7 linked regions of the Homo sapiens genome follow. The protein of the gene in region 1 purifies or fractionates together with the protein of each later gene. This does not show direct contact. Each region holds a gene or a part of one and is shown in the gene's direction. Other genes may lie near its edges.

The links.
Region 2: the proteins of SPANXN4 (region 1) and MTMR14 purify together in Homo sapiens (affinity purification with mass spectrometry; one large-scale study listed by BioGRID and IntAct). This does not show direct contact.
Region 3: the proteins of SPANXN4 (region 1) and WAPL purify together in Homo sapiens (affinity purification with mass spectrometry; one large-scale study listed by BioGRID and IntAct). This does not show direct contact.
Region 4: the proteins of SPANXN4 (region 1) and KLHL18 purify together in Homo sapiens (affinity purification with mass spectrometry; one large-scale study listed by BioGRID and IntAct). This does not show direct contact.
Region 5: the proteins of SPANXN4 (region 1) and LANCL2 purify together in Homo sapiens (affinity purification with mass spectrometry; one large-scale study listed by BioGRID and IntAct). This does not show direct contact.
Region 6: the proteins of SPANXN4 (region 1) and FTO purify together in Homo sapiens (affinity purification with mass spectrometry; one large-scale study listed by BioGRID and IntAct). This does not show direct contact.
Region 7: the proteins of SPANXN4 (region 1) and ACOT9 purify together in Homo sapiens (affinity purification with mass spectrometry; one large-scale study listed by BioGRID and IntAct). This does not show direct contact.

What each region holds. Positions count from the first base shown.
Region 1 is NC_000023.11:143,024,471-143,028,727, forward strand, and holds the start of SPANXN4 (sperm protein associated with the nucleus on the X chromosome N4), read left to right. Parts: upstream 1-1,457; 5' UTR 1,458-1,544; coding exon 1,545-1,622; intron 1,623-4,257.
Region 2 is NC_000003.12:9,691,005-9,694,504, forward strand, and holds part of MTMR14 (phosphatidylinositol-3,5-bisphosphate 3-phosphatase MTMR14), read left to right. Parts: intron 1-2,499; exon of another isoform or gene 2,500-3,500. UniProt on the Homo sapiens protein: Lipid phosphatase that specifically dephosphorylates the D-3 position of phosphatidylinositol 3-phosphate and phosphatidylinositol 3,5-bisphosphate, generating phosphatidylinositol and phosphatidylinositol 5-phosphate.
Region 3 is NC_000010.11:86,497,793-86,501,292, reverse strand, and holds part of WAPL (wings apart-like protein homolog), read left to right. Parts: intron 1-549; coding exon 550-1,575; intron 1,576-3,500. UniProt on the Homo sapiens protein: Regulator of sister chromatid cohesion in mitosis which negatively regulates cohesin association with chromatin. Involved in both sister chromatid cohesion during interphase and sister-chromatid resolution during early stages of mitosis.
Region 4 is NC_000003.12:47,338,444-47,341,943, forward strand, and holds part of KLHL18 (kelch-like protein 18), read left to right. Parts: intron 1-2,113; coding exon of another isoform or gene 2,114-2,128; coding exon 2,129-2,233; intron 2,234-3,500. UniProt on the Homo sapiens protein: Substrate-specific adapter of a BCR (BTB-CUL3-RBX1) E3 ubiquitin-protein ligase complex required for mitotic progression and cytokinesis.
Region 5 is NC_000007.14:55,399,837-55,403,336, forward strand, and holds part of LANCL2 (lanC-like protein 2), read left to right. Parts: intron 1-120; coding exon 121-268; intron 269-1,337; coding exon 1,338-1,484; intron 1,485-3,500. UniProt on the Homo sapiens protein: Necessary for abscisic acid (ABA) binding on the cell membrane and activation of the ABA signaling pathway in granulocytes.
Region 6 is NC_000016.10:53,707,156-53,710,655, forward strand, and holds part of FTO (alpha-ketoglutarate-dependent dioxygenase FTO), read left to right. Parts: intron 1-3,500.
Region 7 is NC_000023.11:23,700,555-23,702,915, reverse strand, and holds the end of ACOT9 (acyl-coenzyme A thioesterase 9, mitochondrial isoform a precursor), read left to right. Parts: 3' UTR 1-1,861; downstream 1,862-2,361. UniProt on the Homo sapiens protein: Mitochondrial acyl-CoA thioesterase. Catalyzes the hydrolysis of acyl-CoAs into free fatty acids and coenzyme A (CoA), regulating their respective intracellular levels. Regulates both mitochondrial lipid and amino acid metabolism.

The sequences.
Region 1 (4,257 bases):
CTTTTGGCTGTTCTAGGCCCATTACATTTCCATATGAATATTATAATTATCCTGTCAATTTCTATTAAGAAACCTTTTTAGAATTTGTATTAGGTTTGAGTTGAATCTACAGATGAATTTGGAAATAACTGACATCTTCAATATTGAATCTTCTAACCGAAAATCAAAGTATACATCTCGATTTTTCCTTATGTTATTATCTTTGCAATTTTTTGTAGTTTTAACTGTGCAAGTCATTTACATTTTTGTTCAGATTTATCCCTAAGCCTTAATATTTTTTGAGATATTTTAAATTGCACTGTGCTTAATTTCAAATTCCGGTTGTTGAAATTAACTACCAGTCGACCCTAGGACTACCATTGGCTGAAACACTGACTGTTCTAATATATAAACTTCTAATATATAACTTCTAACATATAAACATACAATTGATTTGTGTGTTGATCTTCTATCCTGCAATCTTGCTAATCTCAATTATTGTCAAAGCCTTTTTTTTTTTTTTTTTTTAGATCGACTTTTCTACACAGGCTCTCATGTGGTCTTTGACAAAGGATACTTTTACTTCTCCCCTTCCACACTAAATGCCTTTTGTTTTTCTTTTGCACTGGACACAATCTCCATTACAAAATGTAACAATGCCCACACTGGTGTACATGTTGGTGTTAGATAGTATTCTGCATGTAAACACTCAGAACAACTTCCAGCACATGTGTACCCACTCCTCCCCCAACCCTACACACTGGTAAAAACCATGTTGTGGGAGACTACATTTGCTATGAACATACACCCCTGATTTGAAACAAGACTAGGATACCCAGTAAGGATGTTTATTCACTGAAGTTCTGGCAGACTGAAGGCCATGATTTCAGACTAGAAATAGGAAACTTAAGAGGACTACATGGACATTGGAAAAAAGAACATGGATTGAAATTTGCCTGGCAGAAACCTGAAAGTTAATGGTCTTCAAGGTGCATATGAAGGAACTGCAGGAGGGAAGCGGGATAATTCACATCTCCACCAATAATTAAATGTAGCCACACTAGCTTGGAGGGATTTGAGGTGAGACATCTAAAATACTAGGTCATGGTGAGGGTTGGAAGACAAAAGAATGAATCACTTAATAGGAATGGCTGTGGGGAAGGGCTTGAAGGAATCATCCTCTCACTTCCATGTGAACCATGAACATTAAACATGGAGAAATGAGGAGCGGAGGCAGATCAGTTTGGGATGCATCTTCAGGGGATGCTGAAACAACAACAGCATTTGGTTTCCTCTACACCCCTTTCACCCCTCCCCCACAAACCCAGGGAGTTGTCAGAGGTGGTTCTTTGTGATGCCAAAGCCACCCTAGGACTACCATTGGCTGGGACACTGCCTGTATGATCAAACAAAGCTCAAGGGTGTGGCTTCGTCTTGCTCCCAGGAGGGTATATATACAGGGTGGGCAAAAGCTCTGGGACAGCCCACTGGAAAGCTTCAATACAGCTGTGGAAATCTGCACCCTAGAAGATCCTAGTACAGAAATTCTACAACCAACCATAATCATGGAAGAGCCAACTTCCAGCACCAACGAGAATAAAATGAAGAGCCCCTGTGAATCTAACAAAAGAAAAGTTGACAAGGTCAGATTGTTAGGTTTTGAAGGGAAGGTGAGGGTGAAAGAAAGACACACAGATAGGGCGCGGGTCAAACAGCAACACGGGTATACTGCAGACACCTGCAGAAATGTGGGGCCAGCTTCATGCCAGAGCCCACCGCTACATACAGGCCAGCGTACTTATAGGTATGGGTGGGAGAGGTTTGGGCAGTATGGCTGGCTGCTCGGCGGAATATTGATAAGATGTTGTTATGATCAGGCAGTTTGGCCCTTTTTCTGGTGGGATGTCATCATGGTGTTGCTTGGACCTTTTTCCCCAACAAGATATGATAGGGATGTTTTTTTAGATGGGCCTTTATCCACCTCATGGTCAGGCAGTTAGGCGGGATTTTTCTCACGGCCAGAACTCCCGTGGAATGTTTCACTTTGACCAAGGTCTACAAAATAGAAGGGAGCTTACAAGAGAGTGCAGTTTAGACTGATATTCTTGCCTTCTACTTTATCATAAAAGGAAGAGGGACGTGGTTGATTATCTGGCTGCTTGCTGCTGAATAGGGGAGCTGTATTCAGGGTTTGGGTTTTGAAGCAGTGGGTGTTGGACTTCAGAGTTGTTTTCCTGGAGGCACTGGTACCGGACTTGGCAGCGGAGAAGGATGGTATCAATGTGTTGCTGGGTGGCTGCCTGGACAGGGGAGTTTAGCTTTAGGGAGATAAAGAGGGATATGAAGGTGAGTATACATGGGCCAATTGTAGTATTTGGAGGAGAAAGATTAGGGGACCTAAGAAAGCGGCCCCCTGCTATCCCAGTGCTGAGTGCAGCAGAGATGTTTAGTTCTGCTAACACTAGAATGAAATGTAGAGCCTGCTTAGTGTGTGTGGAGGAAGATGAGACAGAAGCTACTAAAGGAAACCGGATGGTCTGCTTGTGAGGCAAAATGTTAACGTTTAGACTGAAACACAAGGGTGCATGTTCCTGACCAATTGGCCAGTAGGCAGAGATAAGAGTTTGTGCCACAAAGGAAGAAGACACTGGGGGTGGACAGACAAAAGTTGTAGCTTATGGTGGCAAGTCATGAGAAGATGGGGGTTGAATTCTGCACAAACCCTTTGTTTTAACTTTTATGCTTTTCCAAGTTGAATAGCTGCCAGCAAGGGTAGGCCCTGTGAGGGCATGACAGAAAATGCTGGTGGGGGAGGAGTTGAAGGCTGTTTGGTTTTGGAGAGAGAGAGATAAATGGGTTTTTGTAACTAATAGTCATTGCGGTCCTGATATGGCAGAAGGATATAGGTTGCAGTTGAGGGAATTGTTTGTGCATTTTTTCCAGGGAGCGCTGTTGAGTTGGATACATGAAGAGCGGCTCTGGCAGAGAGGGGAGGGGTTGGTAAGAGGTGTTTTATGGGATCCAGCTTGTATCGTGTTCAGTTAAGAGGCTGGCTATGAGGCGAAGGAGGGTGACAGCCCTGTGTGTGACAGTGTGGGTGGATCTGATAGACTGGGGAGAAAGGTGTTTAGCTGAGCAAGATTATAAACAGGTTTTGAGAATGAATTGGCCAAGTAGGTGAGATGCAGGTTTATTTTGGACTGGGTTTACGTGGCCAGTTTGAAAGGAAGGGCTGTGAACTGCTGGATTTGTGTGGACAAACAAATTTAACAGTTGGAAGAAAGACGGGAGGGAGTGTGACTGATTTAAGAGGCAATGTGTTAGGCTGATGAAGGGGGCTCAACTGTTAGAGGTTGGGGGTGGGGACTTAGAATATTCCACAGACAAAAAGGGCAAAAGGAGAAAAAGGAGATTTGAGTAGGAGTGAAATTTTGGAAGGCGCCCTGCAGTCATACCTCCTGCATTACTGTGGGAAATTGGCATGGGCTATCCAGGGACATGGGGAAGGGACACCAGGAAAGATCTGAAATAAAGTAGGAGATAAAAGATTGGAAATTGGAGATGGAGACTGTTATGCACTAGGGCATTCTGGATTGGCAACTTCTGGAATTCTTGTTAAGTGCAGTGAGGTTGGTCCTGTGAGGGAGAGAGAGTAATTTGGGGGTGAGGAAATTTCTAGATGTGGATCTGGTGCTCTTTTTAGTTTGGAATGGTGTATTCAGTGTGGGAAGGATGTTAGCTTTGCCACTGTGTGAGTAGTTAGGATAACCTGCTGAGGACCCGTCCACTTAGGTTGGAGAGGGGAGGAGGAGGAGTCTGCGATTCAGACCCAGTCCCCTGGTTGTAGGGACAGGGAGGAGTGTTTTGAGGATGGACTTTTGGGCTGGGGATAATAGGGCTTAGGCTGAGGGGATTTGAGGAAATGGCTCATAAATGCATGAGGACCAGTAAGAGAAGTGAAGCCTGGGCCGTTTTAACCTCTAGGGAGTTTTTGTTTGTTTGTTTGTTTTTTAATTACATGAAGATTAGGGGAGGTAAGGAATATGGAAGGCCCACTTAATGTTTAGAGCCTTTGCCAGCTGTTGGTTAGCCTGTGAAACAAATGTTGGCCCATTGTCTGACTGAATCCAAGAGGGGAGTTTAAACCTGTGGATAATATGAGTGAAGAGAATAGAAGTGATGGGGTGTGCCTTTTCGGTGGTGGTAGGAAAAGCTTTTATCCATCCAGAGAATGTATCTACTATTAGCAGAAGGTATAGGAATCATTTGTTGGGAGGC
Region 2 (3,500 bases), on another chromosome or scaffold:
AAGAAAAACATTCTGAAACTTCTGGAACCTTCCTCCCATCACCCCTCTATGGTTTTTCCCTCTGGGCAAAAACAGGCAATGAAGGAAGTTGGGGAAGAACATCCTCTGCACATAGGCAGAGCAGATAAGCGGGAGGCAAGTGGGCGTTCCAGACTGCACTGCCCACAGGGGCCCCATGTGCTCACCCCTGCGTGAACTCTTCAGCTCAGAACACTGCCTGAGTGCTGGAGCTGAGCCTGTGAAACCACCGCCACACGCCGTCTGGCCCCATGGGAGGTGTGGTGGAAGTGGTGGGGCAGAGATGGGGCCAGACAGACAAGCCCATGTGCCGGTGCCCCGTCCCATCCTGTGTGTGCATGCCTGCTGCCGCACCACCCTTGTCTGTGCCCAGCTGTCCTCAGGGCCACTCTGAGGCTGCAGTGGCACTGTTTGACCCTCACTGTTCTAGGCTGTGGCTCTAGGTCATGGTTCCTGCCCCCTTTTCTGCCTGTCCAGCATTGCTGAACAACTAGGGAGGAAACCAGAGGTTCCTCTTGTCCTCTGGGTCCTGCCTCAGTCTTAACTGCCCAGAATGCAGTGAGCTCCCAAGCTGAGGCAGCACCCCATCACCCGTTACCACACCCTGGCTCTCCATCTCCTGCCTGCCAAAAGATCCCACTTTCCAATCCTGTGATAGTGTCCCTCAGTCTCACAGGTGACTTTCTGCTTGCAGGGCGTGTCTCAGGCTCTTGTAGCCAGTCCAGGATGGCCACCAAGGCCCCCTCTTGGGAGGCTGAGGAGAATTGGGGTTGTCCTCCTGACCTCAGAGCCCTGCACATGGGGGCTTGGCCAAGCTTGGGATAGCTGGACCAAGATGGGTGCAAGGCTTTGAAAGGTGTGGGGTGGGCAGCTGTGAGGTGTTTGATCTTTCCGCTGGTCTGTTTGGGGGATGCCTGTCTGGAGCCAGACTTCTTCTGACTTGGATGCCTGTTGGTCAGAGGTTTTGAAAGTCTAGATTACTCAGATTTGGAGCATTCTAATTATGTATTTCCATTACCATTAAAATTAATTTAGTCTCTTATCTTAAAGTGCCTAAGGGATCCTGTCATTACCCTCCCTGCTTCTTAGGTAACAATAGCCTGTGAGGTCTTTAATGTGGTAGGAGAAGCTGTTTGGAAAGAAACCTTTTAGTGAAGCTGTCTGTGACAGCCAAAATTCTCCTAATGTGAATTCTTTGGGTTTTTATACACTCCAAATTCTACAGGCATCTCTCTTTTAAAGCAGGATTCCCCCATGGAATGAATCTGTGAAGCTTTGTTCAAAGTTAAGTAGTAGGTATGAATCAGGTTGGGAAGAAAGTTCTGTGGGGTGCCAATTCTTACTAACCCCGAGCCCACAGCCCTTACTGGCAAGCCCAGTGGTTTTTAATCATTGTTAGCTGTTGTTGCTGCAGCAGCTTCTGATTAAGTTGCATTTCTGGACCATTGTTAAATCTCTCATCAGCGACAGGGTTGAGGGCTGGGACAGGCCAGGACCAATGCTCTGAGCTCACATGCCTCCCCCAGCTCTGGTTAGCAGGTCGCTCCACCTTGCATGGCCTCGGCCTCGGCCTCTGCTCTGGAGTCATGCATCCTTTAGGAGTAGGGAGGTTGCTAGCACAGGATTGTCCATGCCCAAGGAGGGTTGGTGCCACCACTGAGCCCAGCTTGAAGCCAGGCTACCTGAAGAGCAGGTGAAGTTTGCGGAGGGATGCCCAGCAGCCTGGTTGAATAGCTGAGTAGCAACACAGGGACCAACCTCTGCTGCCCAGTTAGCTACTCTTCCCCCAGCCACCACCACCTGCTAACTGCTCTTTGAGCAACGAGCTCTGTCTTAGGCTGTCTGCTTGTGGGTGGGAGCAGGGTAAGTTTAGATTAGGTGACAGCCAGGTCCCCTCAGAGCCCAGGATTCTATATCTTAGCTCAAGTATTAACTCTGTGTGACTTCATGACATGTCACTTGATGACTTTGGGTTTCCATTTTCTTATCTGTGTAATCAGAGGCTTAGGTAACGCCAAGGTCCTTCCTAGCTGTATACCTTCAAACCTTCTGTATCAGCCTTGTCAGATGTTTTCAAATGCAAGTAACAGAAAACACATTTCAAACTGACCGAAACAATAAAGGAAACACATTTACAGTCAGCCCTCCATATCTGTCGTTTCCACATCCATGATCAGCCAACCAGATTGAAAACATTCAAGATAACATAAACAATAGAAAGTAATACAGATGTGAACATGCAGTGTAACAACCATGTACAGAGCACTGACACTGTATCAGATAATCGAGATGATTTAAAGCATATGGGAGGATGTGCATAGGTTATATGCAAATACAAGTGACTCTTGAACAATGCAGGGATTAGGGCTGTCCCCTACACATGCAGTTGAAATCTGGGTATAACTCTGACTCCCCAAAAGCTACAGATAGCCTGCTGTTGACTAGAAGCCTTACCAATAACATAAAGTCAGTTAACACATGTTTTGTATATCTGTTATATACTGTATTTTTAGGTAAGCTAGAGAAAAATAAAATGTTAAGAAAATCATAAGGAAGGGAACCTATATTTCCTGTGTGTTCAGTAGAAGTGGATCATAATAAAGGTCTTCATGCTGAGGAAAAAATAGAGGGAGGGGCTGTCTTGCTGTGTAGGGCAGCAGAGGCAGGAGATAATCTGCATATGAGTGGACCTGTGCAGTTCATGCGTGTGTTCAAGGATCAGCTGTGCTACTACATTTTATGTAAGGGACTTGAGCATCCAAGGACTTGGTATTGGTGGGGTGGTAAGTGGGTGGCAATCCTGGAACCAATTCCCTGCAACAAAAAGGAATAATAAGGAACAACTGTATATGGAAAAGCCTAGTGGAAAATCAGTCTTCAGGTGCAGCCTGATCAAGGTTCCAGCTCTATTTCCCCGTAGTTTGTTCCCATTGCCTCCTGCATGTTAGCTTTGTTCTCTGGCCAGCTTCCCTGATGGTGGCAAAATGGCTGACAGCACCTCCCAGGATGACACGCTGCTTCCTTTCTCACATCCAGGGTCAGATGAGAGCCTCTTTTTTCAGTTATAGGTAGAAGCTGTGTGCTTTACTCCCGTTGGAGGTTACGTGGTGGTCCATGAACCAATTTCTGAGTCACCCACCCCTTATCAGGAAGAAAGATGAGTATATTATCAGCAAGGGCTTTGGTCAGACCTGGGTTTCCGTCGTAGCTTTGCAGTCCTAGCTGTCTGACTTGGAAAAATCACTTCCTTTCTGAGCTCAGTTATTTTATCCTGTTTTTAAAGGGGGAAAAATGATTCAGGCCCCCCTCCCGTAAGTTTGGGTTAAAATGAAATAATGGGTTGGGCATGGTGGCTCATGTCTGTAATCCAGCACTTTGGGAGGCCAAGGTCAGAGAATCGTTTGAACCCAGGAATTCAAGACTAGGCTGAGCACCATAGTGAGACCTTGCCAATACAAAAGATAGATTAGATAGATAGATTG
Region 3 (3,500 bases), on another chromosome or scaffold:
AAAATTCCCTTGAGATTATATGGCATTTAGGATTAGAAGAAAGAACAGAAATAGCTAGAGAAACCTGATCCTATGGACAGGTTTCTGGATAGAACTAGCATACCTTATGGGCAGCCCTATCCCAGATAAATAAAAACACTGGTAGAAGGTTTTTATTAACTGTTCAGTTGGTTTAGGTTTTACTAAATGATTTTTAATTTAAGCATCTTTATTTGAAAAGCCCATAATACCCCTAAGAAGGTTTGGCTGAGTCATTTACATGTCATTCTGAATGGATTCAGTTGCTTAACCCTGCTGAAATTTCTTGTGAGTTTACAATTTTAAGGGACTTGGTTGCCTGAGGAAAGGTCAGTAGAAGGCATGAGAGCTATACACTGAAAAGATAGGAGAGGAAATGTCTGATATGTAAATGTTAATTTCTTCACAACTTAAAATTATTTGCAGTTCTTCCAAGATTGATCATATACTATTGATTAACCACATATATGTTATTTATTAACTTTTATGTTGATACCACTCATGTTTTTATCCTTTGACTTATTTTTACAGATAAAGTGGAGAATTTTCATGAAGAACATGAAAAGAATAGTCACCATATTCACAAAAATGCTGATGACAGTACTAAGAAACCCAATGCAGAAACTACAGTGGCTTCTGAAATCAAGGAAACAAATGATACTTGGAACTCCCAGTTTGGGAAAAGGCCAGAATCACCATCAGAAATATCTCCAATCAAGGGATCTGTTAGAACTGGTTTGTTTGAATGGGATAATGATTTTGAAGATATCAGATCAGAAGACTGTATTTTAAGTTTGGATAGTGATCCCCTTTTGGAGATGAAGGATGACGATTTTAAAAATCGATTGGAAAATCTGAATGAAGCCATTGAGGAAGATATTGTACAAAGTGTTCTTAGGCCAACCAACTGTAGGACGTACTGTAGGGCCAATAAAACGAAATCCTCCCAAGGAGCATCAAATTTTGATAAGCTGATGGACGGCACCAGTCAGGCCTTAGCCAAAGCAAACAGTGAATCGAGTAAAGATGGCCTGAATCAGGCAAAGAAAGGGGGTGTAAGTTGTGGGACCAGTTTTAGAGGGACAGTTGGACGGACTAGAGATTACACTGTTTTACATCCATCTTGCTTGTCAGTTTGTAATGTTACCATACAGGATACTATGGAACGCAGCATGGATGAGTTCACTGCATCCACTCCTGCAGATTTGGGAGAAGCTGGTCGTCTCAGAAAAAAGGCAGATATTGCAACTTCTAAGACTACTACTAGATTTCGACCTAGTAATACTAAATCCAAAAAGGATGTTAAACTTGAATTTTTTGGTTTTGAAGATCATGAGACAGGAGGTGATGAAGGAGGTTCTGGAAGTTCTAATTACAAAATTAAGTATTTTGGCTTTGATGATCTCAGTGAAAGCGAAGATGATGAAGATGATGACTGTCAAGTAGAAAGAAAGACAAGCAAAAAAAGAACTAAAACAGCTCCATCACCCTCCTTGCAGCCTCCCCCAGAAAGCAATGATAATTCCCAGGACAGTCAGTCTGGTACTAACAATGCAGGTAAGAATTTAAAAAATATGTATAATAAGTACAATAGTTCCCCCTTACCTGCAGTTTCACTTTCTGTGGTTTCAATTACCCAAGGTCAACCATATTCTGAAAAGAGGTGAGTACAGTATAATAAGATAAAGATCCCATTCACATAACATTTATTATAGCGTATTGTTAAAATCATTGTTCTATTCTTAGTCATTGCTAATCTCTTACTGTGCTTGATTTATAAATTAAACTTTATCATAGGTATGTATACGAAAAAACATAGTATATACAGGTTTTGGTGTACTATTCCTGGTTTCAGGCATCCACTAGGAACTGGCATGTATTCCCTGTTGATGGCTGGGGGGGCTACTTTAAATGTGTTTTTCAGGCTTGAATCAACAGCTGCATAGTTTCTTCCTAGATACTCAAGTTTAGCTTGTTATATTTATTAAAAGTACCTGTTAGAACCGTAAATCACCTTATCTAAAGGTACAGCATTTCAAGTGTTAATGATCAGGTCCCAAGTTGTAAGGAACCAATTTGTAGATTGGAGAGTCTTCATATTTGAGTTTTAATTTAACCTTTAGCACTTGAGAATTTTAAAGCATATATGTGTATGGGGCAGGGACACCAAACATCGTGATGTTTCCACTTGACAAATGCAAATGCAGTGAAAACATAGATTAGATTTTGGGCCTTTGGAACTGTACTGATAACAGGTGGTTATAATGAGGGAAATACCAGAAGATTAGAATTTAAAAACTCTTTGTGGTTGGCTAAAAACTAATAAACATTCAAAACACTCTCAAACCCTCCTAAGTTGGTTTAATAAAATTGAAAAGTGCCAGGTAAGTATGCATTCCCTCTTAACTGTGGAAATTTAATTTGTGCCGAGATTGTAGACTCAGTAGTGACTAAGGGTCCTCAAGGAGTTCAGTCTCCACTGTGAGAGACAAACAAAAGAAATAGGTTAGCTCTGCCATAATTAAGTCATTACCTGACAAGGGCTTTGTGAAGTGGATTGACTATCTAGTGAGGAAGAATTTGTGAAAGCTTCTAGGATACATGGTTTCTTAACCAAATATAGTTTTTCTGGATTGGTTTACATATTAAATAAAGCTTTTTTCCTGGTAGGGCCACAGAAGTGTCATTATGGTAAATTAGAATTACAGTAGTATTTTGAAATACAAATTCTCTTGTAGAATATAAGTCATTCTTGAGATTACCTACCATTTTGCTTTATTTGGCCTGAAAATAGTTTTGCTTAATTTATTCTTCAAAACTAGACATACACAGGAGTACCCCTAGGGGCTCACCCCTGCCTCCCCCGAAAAAAAAGAAAAAAGAAATACATCCAGTGTTGTCTTTGAATCTTTTCTGGAGACTGGAAATTTGCAGCAGCCTTACTATAGTCACTTAAGATCTGGCTAGGCAGAACAGCTAGGCATTTGTTTCCTCAGTAGAATGATAAATACTGCTATACAATACCAGCGCCCTTGTCCTGCTGTAGTTTACTTATAAGCTTTTATTCTAACCTGGATAGCAAGTTATCCCCTGCAATTGAGAATCTGTGGCTGAAATTTACATCTTGTGTAATACAACTTTTAAAGATGTAAAATGTGAAATTAGACTCCCTTTGAGAAACTTGAAGTAGATGCTAAATAACATTTGAAAATTAGAGGCCATTTGGTTGATCTACCCAAAGTTGAAATTTGAGTCTTCATACCATAAGTGAAACAGCAAAAAATTTTAAGCATTGGGATAGAGAAGAGTCTTTCTATGTTTCCTATTTTGTTTCGCTTAGAAAAAGATACATATTTTTAACCAGTTGGGAAATAAACTGACTCTTTGGTTAGTTGTGTTTGAAGACCGACAAATCATTAAACTTTGTTATATTAGGTCATTTTAAATCTCTTGCCAAGGATAACTGTCCTCCTTTTCTGGTG
Region 4 (3,500 bases), on another chromosome or scaffold:
TCTTTCTGGCTGGTTCAGGGGGTCAGTTATCATGTCCCTGAAAGGGACATTCTGTGGATCAGTTTGATTACTATGTACATTTAAAAGGTAGCAGCAAGCCAGGTATGGTGGCTCACGCCTATAATCCCAGCACTTTGCGAGGCCAAGGAGGGCGGATCACCTAAGGTCACGAGTTTGAGACCAGCCTGGCCAACATGGTGAAACCCTGTCTTTACTAAAAATACAAAAATTAGCCAGGCATGGTGGCGGGCGCCTGTTATCCCAGCTACTTGGGAGGCTAAGGCAGGGAGAATTGCTTAAACCGGGGAGGCGGGGGTTGCAATGAGCTAAGATCGTGCCACTGCATTCCAGCCTGGTTGACAGAGTGAGACTCCGTCTCAAAAAAAAGAAAAGGTAGCATTAAGCCTGGTATGTTTTATTTTCCTGTTTGTTAGAAACCTAGATTCATTTTTAATCTTCACCAGCATCACATTTGAAAATAGTGAATTGGGCAGCTTGGCATTTGTGCTGAATTCCTTATAAGGCGTTGTGTAGGAGGGAAGATTACATGATTACACCACCAGACCCCTGGGTCTTTGATATTAGGAGAGCTTGGCATGTAAGGAGTTGGGGAGTTGGGCTTGTCTCATTTAAATCTGAGGCAGGCCTCTCTCTGGGCAGTCTTGAGGAGAGACCTCAGCCTCCCCAAGCTATGGCTGCCTGTCTGTACAGTGATTATGGTGCTCTTTCCTTCCTTGCAGGGTGTGCTAAGGGCTGAAAATAGCAAGTGGGCCATGCACAGTGGCTCACACCTGTAATGCCAGCACTTTGGGAGGCTAAGGCGGGAGGATTGCTGGAGCCCAGGAGTTTAAGACCAGCCTGGGCAACATAGTGAGACCCCCGTCTATACAAAAAAAAAATTAGCCAGGCATAGTGCCATGTGCCTGTAGTCCCAGCTACTGGGGAGTCTGAGGTGGGAGAATCCCTTGAACCCAGGAGGTCAAGACTGCTGTGAACCATCATTGTGCTACTGCACTCCAGCCTGATGATAGAGCAAGACCTCATCTCAAAAAAAAAAAAAAAAAGAAAATAACAAATGTAGAGTACCTAACACATGTAGTAAATGCACAGCAAACAGGAGCTGTGGCATCAGCCACTATGATAAATTAGAGGCCATGCACATGATGAAAACAACATCTGTGAATTGAGTGGGAAAAAGCAGAGGTAACACAACAAACATACATTCAGTGCCTGTTACATACAGGACATCATACTTATCACTGTGAGGGTCACACAGGTGAAGGCCCTTTCCTGTCTTCCAGGAGCTCCTCACTTATTAAGAGGTGGCAGATAGATTGGCTGGGTGTGGTGGCTCACTCTTAACAATCCCAGCACTTTGGGAGGCTGAGACAAGAGGACAGAAGTTTGAGACCAGCCTGGGCAACATAGCAAGACCCTGTCTCAAAAAAAAAAAAATTAGCTGGGTGTGGTGGTGCACACCTGTAATCCCAGCTACTTGGGAGGCTGAAGTGCAGGAAGATCAATTGAGCACAGGAGTTCAAGGCACAGTGAGCTATGATGGTACCACTGCACTCTAGCCTGAGTGACAGAGCAAGGCTCTGATTAAAAATTACACACAGAAGTGGCAGATAGATTCCTGGTAGCCTATAATGTCAGAACATAAGTGCTTTGTGGGCTGGAACTTTGGCTTGCTTACCACTCTAAACCCCAGCTGTTACAGATCTGATGGATGAATGAATGATTGTAACAACTGCTGATTAATAAGCCACTCAGGGAGCGTGGGGGTGGGAAAGAGTAATTCTTACAAAGGGGAGGAAGAGGAGAGTGGAAGTTGAGTTGGGCCTTCAAGGTAAATTCGACCTTCACATGGTGAGGTGGAAGGTAAGCATTTTAGAAAGATTAAGGACAGAGAAGAGCAGGGAGGGGAGGCAGCCTGCGGTAGAAGGGTGGGGCACAAGAGGAATGATGGGGCAGCTTCTGTCACCTCAGTTTTATGCCTTTACTTAGTCACATACCTTAGATTTACGTTGCAGAAAGAGGCAATTGATAGGTTTGTTTCTCAGTGGGCAAGAGAGGCTGCTCCAGGAAGGCTGCGGCTCATCTGGGATGACAGCTCTGTCTGTTTCAGTGCCATGGGGACAGTCGTGCTGGATGGGCAGATCTACGTCTGTGGGGGCTACGATGGCAACTCTTCCCTCAGCTCCGTGGAGACCTACTCACCTGAGACGGACAAGTAAGGACTCCAGCTCCCTTGGGGCAACTGGAGCTTATAAACAGAGAGTATAAAAATCAGAACTGTAGTTTTTTTAATTTAAGCTTCTCAAGGGTAGAGAATGTCTTACCTTTTTGCCCGTATAGTACTTTGTATATACTAGATATTTAATAACCCTTGGTTAAGTGAAAGAATGAGTAAATAAAATTTTAAAACAAATAGTCTACATAGTTGCTTGGAAATACTTATTTAATGGTCTGTACCTCTTAGCTAAATCAGCCCATTTTAATGGAAATACAGGCAAGAGGGAATAAGAAGTAGATGAACAGCATGTTCCAAAGTGGGTAGGATATGATTTGGAAAAAAAAAAATGTTTTTAAGTTCTGTGGTCAGATAGGCTTGGGAAATGTTGATGTCTGAACTGCCAGAGTCCTTGTCTTTCCATAAGATATATTAACATTTTAAAGACTCTAAGAAACCCTGCAGTAAATAACTCTGTTTAACCTCGGGTTTTATATACACAACAGTCACCATCTTGTGGGACTCATTTGTGGAACACTCTTTGAAAAACATTGACAAGGTTAGCCCGAGTTTTTCATTTCAGTATTTGAATCCTCTCATCTTATATAATAAAATATAAACAAATTAGTTGAATGGACTTATTAGGATGCCTTTAAGCCAGTATTCTGTTCACTTGACCAATCTACTGTGGATCAGACAGCAAGCTGGGTGTCTGAGATCCTTTAAAGCATCCAATGTGGTTGGGCCATGGGTTGCATCATGATCATCCTACCCTGGAGGCCTGTGTCAGAAGCTCTTGGGCACAGAGCAGAGAGAACCTTCATCTTCCCCAGGGTTGCAGGAAGGGACAGGGTAGCAGGGATGTCTTCCAAGGTGAGACCTGTCATGGATAGCCAATGGGAGGTGTTTGCTCATCATAGGGAGACAACAAGGAGTGAGGCTGCAATAAGAAAGTGTTCACTGTAATCGAGAACAGCAATGATCCTCTCATGGGCTAGAGCACAGCGTGTGGATGGGAGACGGAGCAGGGTGGGTGGCATGTGGTGTGGGGTGAAGCTGAAGGGTGGTTGAGGACCAAGAGGTGAAGAACCACATGAAGGGCTGGGCACAGTGGCTCACGCCTGTAATCCTAACACTTTGGGAGGCCAAGGCAGGAAGGTAACTTGAGCCTAGGAGTTTGAGACCAGCCTAGGCAACATAAGAGAGACCCTGTCTCTTTTAAAAAAAAAAAAAAAAAAAAAGGAGAGAGAGAAAAAAACATTAGCCA
Region 5 (3,500 bases), on another chromosome or scaffold:
AAATAATTGTTTTAAATGTAAAATAAATAATAGGTAATTCCTAAAGCAACAGGGTTAGTGTTTCAGGAAGAAGTACTTTAGACTTCCACTGGGAAAAAATTAATTTTTCTTATTGGTTAGACTTTTGCAGCTCCAGAGATCGGTTGTCTGCCAAGAATCAGACCTTCCTGATGAGCTGCTTTATGGACGGGCAGGTTATCTGTATGCCTTACTGTACCTGAACACAGAGATAGGTCCAGGCACCGTGTGTGAGTCAGCTATTAAAGAGGTACTATGGGGTATGGGTAACTATGGGCGTCTCTACCATTCAAACCTATTTGCTAGCATTGAGTTGTATTAACAGCTGGACTTTACTTCTAGGTAGCATTACTTTTTTAAAGCAACTCATCAAAAGTAAGAAATAGTCCCTGCTTTTTTCTAGGAACATTAACAAAAAAAATCTGTACTCTCTTTCATCTTGTATTAATTTATCAGTTTTTACTGGAGCTAAACAGCAGCAGCTTCAGAAAGTTAGAATGTTTATTTATCTTTCGTGAGATGTCTCAGCTGGTAAGCATTTCAGGCTGGTATGAGTGGGGACCAGCTTCTTCTGTCTCATTCTGCCTTATCCTAGGGGCATACCCTTATTTGCAGGACCAAGGCTAGTTTAGCCCCTCAGCCTATGAAGGGAAAAGAGGAGGTGGAGGCAACGCAGCTTCCTTGTTAGGGACTCAGTCTCCAAGTTGCCCTCTTTACTTCTGCTCCCATCCCAGTGCCAGAACTTCATCAAGTGTCTGTGTTCAGCTGTCTCTAACTAGGGAGCCAGATGCCCAGCTAAAACTTGGAATACTTTCCCAAAAAGGATGAGAGGAGATAGACGTGAGGAAACAGTCATCCCAGACATGATATTCTGTTGATCTAACTGAAATCCTTCATGCCACAGCAGACCTCATATCATTAGCCTTTTATAAATAAAGCCAGTTCCTCCAGCCTTTCCTGATAGGTGTATGTGCTGCTCTTTTGGGAAAAATACTGCAGCTACGAAGCAACTAAGAAATCCAAAACAGTTTTATAAGAAGTTTTTCTAGATTTTTCGTTGACTTTTTATGCAAAGAATTTTTTATTTCTTAGACAGTATCTTTTCCTACTCTGACATTGGCTCCTGATTTCTTTTTGCCTGCATTTATTAATTTATAAAATAAATATAACTATATTAGCTGCTAACTGCTTAAAGACTTTTAGATTAAGGCTTCTGCCTCTCTCTCTATATATGTCATATATATATGACATACTGTTAATTAGACTACAACAGGGTACATATACAGTTTTAGATTTATGCTGTCTTGTTATCTCTGTAGGTAGTCAATGCTATTATTGAATCGGGTAAGACTTTGTCAAGGGAAGAAAGAAAAACGGAGCGCTGCCCGCTGTTGTACCAGTGGCACCGGAAGCAGTACGTTGGAGCAGCCCATGGCATGGCTGGAATTTACTATATGTTAATGCAGGTAGGTAAGAATACTCTTACACACTACAGTATATTTGATCAAACATGAAATGGGAAATGAATCCTGCATATAAACAAAGCAGTCTGGATTGAAATACCCTACTTTGAATCGCTGATGCGTAACTCTGCCACATAAACCACAGGCAGTGGATTTCTAAGAGTCCAGTGAGTTCCTGAGTACATTTGGTATGGAGTCTTTTTTTTTTTTTTTTTTTTTTTTTTCCAATTTTCTTTTTTTTTTTTTTTTGATCATTCTTGGGTGTTTCTCGCAGAGGGGGATTTGGCAGGGTCACAGGACAGTAGTGGAGGGAAGGTCAGCAGATAAGTGAACAAAGGTCTCTGGTTTTCCTAGGCAGAGGACCCTGCGGCCCTCTGCAGTGTTTGTGTCCCTGGGTACTTGAGATTAGGGAGTGGTGATGACTCTTAACGAGCATGCTGCCTTCAAGCATCTTGTTTAACAAAGCACATCTTGCACCACCCTTAATCCATTTAACCCTGAGTGGACACAGCACATGTTTCAGAGAGCACAGGGTTGGGGGTAAGGTCACAGATCAACAGGATCCCAAGGCAGAAGAATTTTTCTTAGTACAGAACAAAATGAAAAGTCTCCCATGTCTACCTCTTTCTACACAGACATGGCAACCATCCGATTTCTCAATCTTTTCCCCACCTTTCCCCCCTTTCTATTCCACAAAACCGCCATTGTCATCATGGCCCGTTCTCAATGAGCTGTTGAGTACACCTCCCAGACGGGGTGGTGGCCGGGCAGAGGGGCTCCTCACTTCCCAGTAGGGGCGGCCGGGCAGAGGCGCCCCTCACCTCCCGGACGGGGCGGCTGGCCGGGCAGAGGGGCTCCTCACTTCCCAGTAGGGGCGGCCAGGCAGAGGCGCCCCTCACCTCCCGGACGGGGCGGCTGGCCGGGCGGGGGGCTGACCCCCCCGCCTCCCTCCCGGACGGGGCGGCTGGCCGGGCGGGGGGCTGACCTCCCCGCCTCCCTCCCCGGACGGGGCGGCTGGCCGGGCAGAGGGGCTCCTTACTTCCCAGTAGGGGCGGCCAGGCAGAGGCGCCCCTCACCTCCCGGACGGGGCGGCTGGCCGGGCGGGGGGCTGACCCCACCACCTCCCTCCCGGACGGGGCGGCTGGCCGGGCAGAGGGGCTCCTCTCCTCCCAGTAGGGGCGGCCGGGCAGAGGCGCCCCCCACCTCCCGGATGGGGCGGCTTGCCGGGCGGGGGGCTGACCCCCCCACATCCTTCCCGGACGGGGCGGCTGGCCAGGCGGGGGATGACCCCCCCACCTCCCTCCCGGATGGGGCGGCTGGCTGGGCGGGGGGCTAACCCCCCCACCTCCCTTCCGGACGGGGCGGCTGGCCGGGCGGGGGGCTGACCCCCACCTCCCTCCCAGACGGGGTGGCTGCCGGGCGGAGACGCTCCTCACTTCTCAGACGGGGCGGTTGCCGGGCGGAGGGTCTCCTCACTTCTCAGACGGGGCGGCCGGGCAGAGACGCTCCTCACATCCCAGACGGGGCGGCAGGGCAGAGGCGCTCCCCACATCTCAGACGATGGGCGGCCTGGCAGAGACGCTCCTCACTTCCTAGATGGGATGGCGGCTGGGCAGAGATGCTCCTCACTTTCCAGACTGGGCAGCCAGGCAGAGAGGCTCCTCACATCCCAGACGATGGGCGGCCAGGCAGAGACGCTCCTCACTTCCCAGACGGGGTGGCGGCCGGGCAGAGGCTGCAATCTCGGCACTTTGGGGGGCCAAGGCAGGCAGCTGGGAGGTGGAGGTTGTAGCGAGCCGAGATCACGCCACTGCACTCCAGCCTGGGCACCATTGAACACTGAGTGAGTGAACGCGACTCCGTCTGCCATCCCGGCACCTCGGGAGGCCGAGGCTGGCGGATCACTCGCGGTTAGGAGCTGGAGACCAGCCTGGCCAACACAGCGAAACCCCGTCTCCACCAAAAAAATACGAAAACCAGTCAGGCATGGCGGCGCGCGCCTGCAATCGCAGGCACTCG
Region 6 (3,500 bases), on another chromosome or scaffold:
ATTGAAATCAAGGCATCAATAGGGCCATACTCCCTTTGAAGGACTCTAGGGGAAACTCCTTCCTTGCCTCTTCCAGCTTCTAGTGTCCCTGGTGTTCCTTGGCTTGTGGTAGCATCACTTCATAACTTCTCTGCTTCCATCTTCACATGGCCTTCTCTCTGTTTCTGTGTCTCAAATCTCTCTCTCCTTTCTGTTAAAAGGATGCCAGTCATTGGATTAGGACCCGTCCTAAATCCAGGATGATCCTGAGATCCTTAAGAGCCTCAACTTAATTACATTTGCAAGGACACTTTTTCCAAATAAGGTTACATTCACACGTGCCGGGTTTTTGGATTCGGACATATCTTTTTGGGGAACAATATTCAAATGCACTGCACCCTTTTACATTCCTACCAACTGTTAGTAGGAATGTAAAATGAGAGTTCTACTTGTTTCATATCTTTTCATCGCTTGTCAGTCTTTTACATTTTAACCATTCTAGTAGGTGTGCAGTGATATTTGATTTTAATTTGCATTTCAGTGATGACTAATGAGGTTGCATATCTCTCTTTTTGTAAATCTTTATTGAGTGAGGTATAATTTACATACCATAAAATTCACCTGTTTTCAGTGTAGGACTCAATGGTTGGTAGCATATTTGCAGAGTCGTGTAACTGTCACCACCGTCTTATTTTAGAACAGTTCCATTCCAGAAGAAACTTTGTATTCATTTGCAGTTATTTCTCAATTCTACTTCCTCCCTAGGGAACCACGAATCTACTCTGTTCTTTAGATTTGCCTTTTCTGGACATTTTTATATAGATGGACTCATACAATATGTGGTCTTCTTTCACCCAGGATGTTTTTGAGGTTCATCCATGTTGTAGCATATATTGGTACTTTGTTCCTTTTTATTACACAGTGGATAGAATTCCAGTGTCAGGCCGAGCATGGTGGCTCATGCCTGTAATCCCAGCACTTTGGGAGGCCAAGGCAGGTGGATCACCTGAGGTCAGGATAACTTAGATCAAGACCAGCCTGGCCAACATGGTGAAACCCTGTCTCTACTAAAAATACTAAAATTAGCCAGGAGTGGTGGCACATGCCTGTAATTCTAGCTACTCGGGAGGCTGAGGCATGAGAATCACCTAACCTGGAAGGCAGAGGTTGCAGAGAGCCCAGATTGTGCCACTGCATTCCAGCCTGGGTGACAGAGTGAGACTGTGTCTCAAAAAAAAAAAAAGAATTCCAGTGTCAGGATATACCATATTTTGTTTATCTGTTCACCAGTTGATGGACATTTGATTTGTTTCTACATTTTGACTATTATGGAAAATGCTACTGTGAACATTTGCACCCTAGTTTTTGTGTGGACGTGTTTTCATTCCTCTTTGGTAGATACTTAGGAGTGGAATTACAGGACTTATGGTAAATCTATGTTTAACATTTTAAGAAACTGACAAACTGTTTACTTGTGTGGCTACACCATTTTACATTTCCCATCAGCCATTTTGAGGGTTACAATTTTGTCACATCCTTGTCAACACTTGTTGTTGTCTGTCTTTTCTATTGTAGCCGTTATAGTGGGTGTGAAGTAGTATCTCATTGTGGTTTGATTTGCATTTCTCTGATGGGTAATAATGTTATGCATCTTCTCATGTGCTTATTGGACATGTGTATATCTTCTTTTGTGAAGTGTCTGTTCAAAATCTTTGCCCATTTTTTTGTTGGATTGTTTGTGTTCCTATTATTAAGTTTTATGAGTTCTTTATATTTTCTAGATATAAATCCTTTGTTTACTATGTGTGTTGCAAACATTATCTTCCATTCATCTAGGTTACTTAATAGTTTTTAAGAAAGGTCCACTTTATCAATGTTTATTTTTATGATTCATGCTTTTTGTGTCATATCTATGCAGTCTTTATCCCAAAGTCACAAAGATTTCTTTTTTGCTTTTTAAATTAAACTTTGTCATCCCCATAATGGGCACTTAGTTTTTATTTTTCTTTTCTCTTTGAAATAACTTAGATCATATTTTCTCTCTTGTGATTGCTTATGCTATGGACTTTTATGCTGTTTCCAAGTCTGGAGGGTGAATAAGAAGGTTGGACCACATAGCTTTCTACGATTAACATTTATTTAATTTGTGTTAAGCACATGAGAATACTATACGGTATTCATGCATTTTTAAAATGAACTTTTCTTCTAAGGCATATAATAGAACAGTCCAGATAAGTATTTGATGGTTTGAGTTAGAACCATGGCGTCTACTATTTCCTTACTGTAGGGATAGGGGATTCATACCCCGTGCCTCAGTTTCTCCAGTCATTAATGAGGTTAAGAATAGCTGCTTCTGTGGGTTGGTGTGAGGACCCAGTGTGATGAGGTCTAGCTACTATTCCAGGGGTAGAGTAGCATGCCCTTGATTGAGTTTGGTGGCCTGAGGGGTCCTCTGCTGGGGTGGGGCTGGCCCTATGCATTTTTTCCCAGATGTTATAATTTATTATTTTGAAATGATTTAAAACTTATTGAAGAGCAAGAGTAGAACCTAGAGCTCTCATAGACCTGTTTGTCCATATTCACAGGTTAACATCTTGCTGTGTTCACTTTATTGCTCTCTTTCTCGCCATATATATCCACATGAACAATTTTTTTAATGAACCATTGCAGAGTAAGTCGGAGACATCAGTCCTCTTTACCCCTAAATAGTTCAGCATATATTTCCTAAGAACATGGACATTCTCTTGCATACAAATATAAACACAATCAATTGTTAATTTCAGAAAAAGTTAACATTGATATAATGCTATTATTTCATCCAAAGTCCATATTCAAATTTTGCTAATTGTCCTAATAATGAATTTTATAGCATTTTTTTCCTGGTCCAGGTTCCATCTGGATTGCATATTACCTTTCATTGTCAGGTCCCTTTGGTCTCTTCTCCTTTAATCTGGTGTCCTTTCATGTCCTTTAAATTGGTTCCTCATCCTTTTTCTTTCAAGACATTGACATTTGTGATGTGTGCAAGCTATCTTTTATTTATTTATTTATTTATTTATTTAATTTTTTTGTAGAATGGCCCTGTATTCTTATTTGTCTTATGTTTCCTTATGATTAGATTCAGATTTTGCCTTTTTTTTTTTTTTTTTGAGACCAAGTCTCGCTCTGTTGCCCAGGCTGGAGTGCAGTGGCGCGATCTCAGCTCACTGCAACCTCCACCTCCCGAGTTCAAGCGATTCTTCTGCCTCAGCCTCCTGAGTAGCTCAGACTACAGACACGTGCCACCACACCCAGCTAATTTTTGTATTTTTAGTAGAGATGGGTTTCACCATGTTGGCCAGCCTGATCTCGAACTCCTGACCTCGTGATTCACCTGCCTCGGCCTCCCAAAGCGTTGGGATTACAGGCGTGAGCCACCGTGCGCAGCCCAGATTTTGCATTTTTGCATGTATATTTTTGAGGAAAGATGGGGCCTCTAGAGGTCACATATTTATAATCCACATATGCCTCCTGGCTGTAGG
Region 7 (2,361 bases), about 120 Mb from region 1:
ACCACAATAATAATAGCTGCTTATGCTTATGGAGCATTGCCATGTGCTAGATAGGCACCATCCTCAGCCCTTGGCAGGTCTGAGCTCCTTTATTTCTTCCAATCAACACTATGAGGCAGGTTCTGTAACCCCCCTTAGGGTTAGGCCACTCGGGAAACTGAAGCACAGAGAGTTTAAGTAACTTCCTGGAGGTCCGACGCGTAACATGTGGAGGTGCTGGGATTCAAAACCAGGCAATGTGGGTCCCGGGCACTCTTGACCAGTGCCTGTACTTCTTCCAAGGAATAGAGCAAGGGAGGTCATACCGAATATCACAGTGTCACCTAGGAAGCCCAAGGGAGGTATTCCCGTTAATCTGCAGCCAAGGCCGGGCGCGGTAGCTCATGCCTGTAATCCCAGCACTTTGGGAGGCCAAGGCGGATGGATCATGAGGTCAGGAGTTCAAGACCAGCCTGGCCGAGATGGTGAAACCCCGTTTCTACTAAAAATACAAAAATTAGCCGGGCGTGGTGGCGGACGCCTGTAATCCCAGCTACTCGGGAGGCTGAGGCAGAGAACTGCTTGAACCTGGGAGGCAGAGGTTGCAGTGAGCTGTGATCATGCCACTGCACTCCAGCCTGGGTGACAGAACGAGACTCCATCTCAAAAAAAAAAAAAAAAAAAAATCTGTAGCCAAGACCGTTCCTTTTTTGACAGGAAGGTAACTTAGAAGAAAAAATAATCTCTGAAAAAAGTCCTCCCAAGAAGGAAGCAATATTTATTGTGGGTTCTACATTAGTGTTCACAAACTTGGCTCTGCCTCAGAATTAGGTGGAAAGTATTTTTGTGTGTGTGTGTGTGTGTGAGACAGAGTTTCACTCTGTCGCTCCAGCTGGAGTGCAGTGGCATGATCTTGGCTCACTGCAACCTCTACCTCCCGGGTTCAAGCGATTCTCCTGCCTCAGCCTCCTGAGTAGCTAGGATTACAGGTGTCAGCCCCCATGCCTGGCTAGTTTTTGTATTTTTAGTAGAAAGGCGGTTTCACCATGTTGGCCAGCTGGTCTCAAATTCCTGACCTCAGGTGATCCACCTACCTTGGCCTCCCAAAGTGCTGGGATTATAGGCATGAGCCACTGCACCCGGCCGGTGGAAAGCATTTTTAACAAAAAATTTTTAGGCCAGGCACAGTGGTGGCTCATGCCTGTAATCCCAGCACTTTGGGAGACTGAGATGGGAGGATCGCTTGAGACCAGCCTGGGAAACATAGTGAGACCCTTTCTCTACAAAAAGTTAAAAAATTATCTGAGCATGGTGGTGTGCACCTGTAGTCCCAGTTAGGAGGCTGAGGTGAGTGGATTGCTTGAGTCCAGGAGTTTGAGTCTGCAGTGAGCTATGATCATGCCACTGCACTCCAGTCTGGGTGACAGCAAGACCCTGTCTCAAGCAATTTTTTTATATTAGTTTATGTAATGTTTATTGAAATCACAGTGTCAACAAGCACCTCTGGCATGAAATAGTCACAGGAGCGAACACAACTATCTCTTGGAAGCATGCAGTTTGACTCATGGAATCAAGCATGTGCTGTACTATAATAACTTGTCTCTCCATGCCGTAATGCCATCCTGACTGAGATTTACCTGGCCCTTCAATATAGCATTTTGCATATCTACCTATGACATGATGGGAGGTGGCTAATGGGGAGGGATGCGCCCTGGGGAGTTTTGTGAATGTGTTAAGTGGAGTTAAGAGACCTACTGCATGCTATTGTATAGATTATACATTATATATTTAACCATTTGTTGCTGTACAGTGAAGCTTTTTCTAGTATTTCTTTTTTGCTATTATAAACAATGTTGCAGTAAATATCCTAAATACTCTAAAACATTTGACCCTTAAATTATTTTCTTTGGAAAAATATTAAATGAGATATTTAGGTCAAATAGTAGGCACACGTTGAAGGCTTTGAATATGTATTTCATGTAACCCTTCAGAACAGTTTCACACAATCACTTACACATCAGCAATTTCCCTGAACTTTGCCAATTTTTATCTTTTCTTTTTAAAATATCTTTGCCATTTTGATAGGTGAAGAATGACCTTCTGCTGGATGTGGTGGCTCACACCTGTAATCCCAGCACTTTGGGAGGCCAAGGCAGATTGCTTGAGGTCAGGAGTTCAAGACCAGCCTGGGCAACACGGTGAAAACCTGTTTCTACAAAAATACAAAAATTAGCAAGGTGTTGTAGTCTCACCAGTGCGCCAAAATGTAGCAGTCTTTGGTTGTCTGAGATAGTATCCGGAGTTCTTTGTGTCACAGAGCACGAACACAAGGGTGAGGTTGGAGCAAAAGTTTAGTAAGCAAAACAAGAAAGCTCTCGGCTG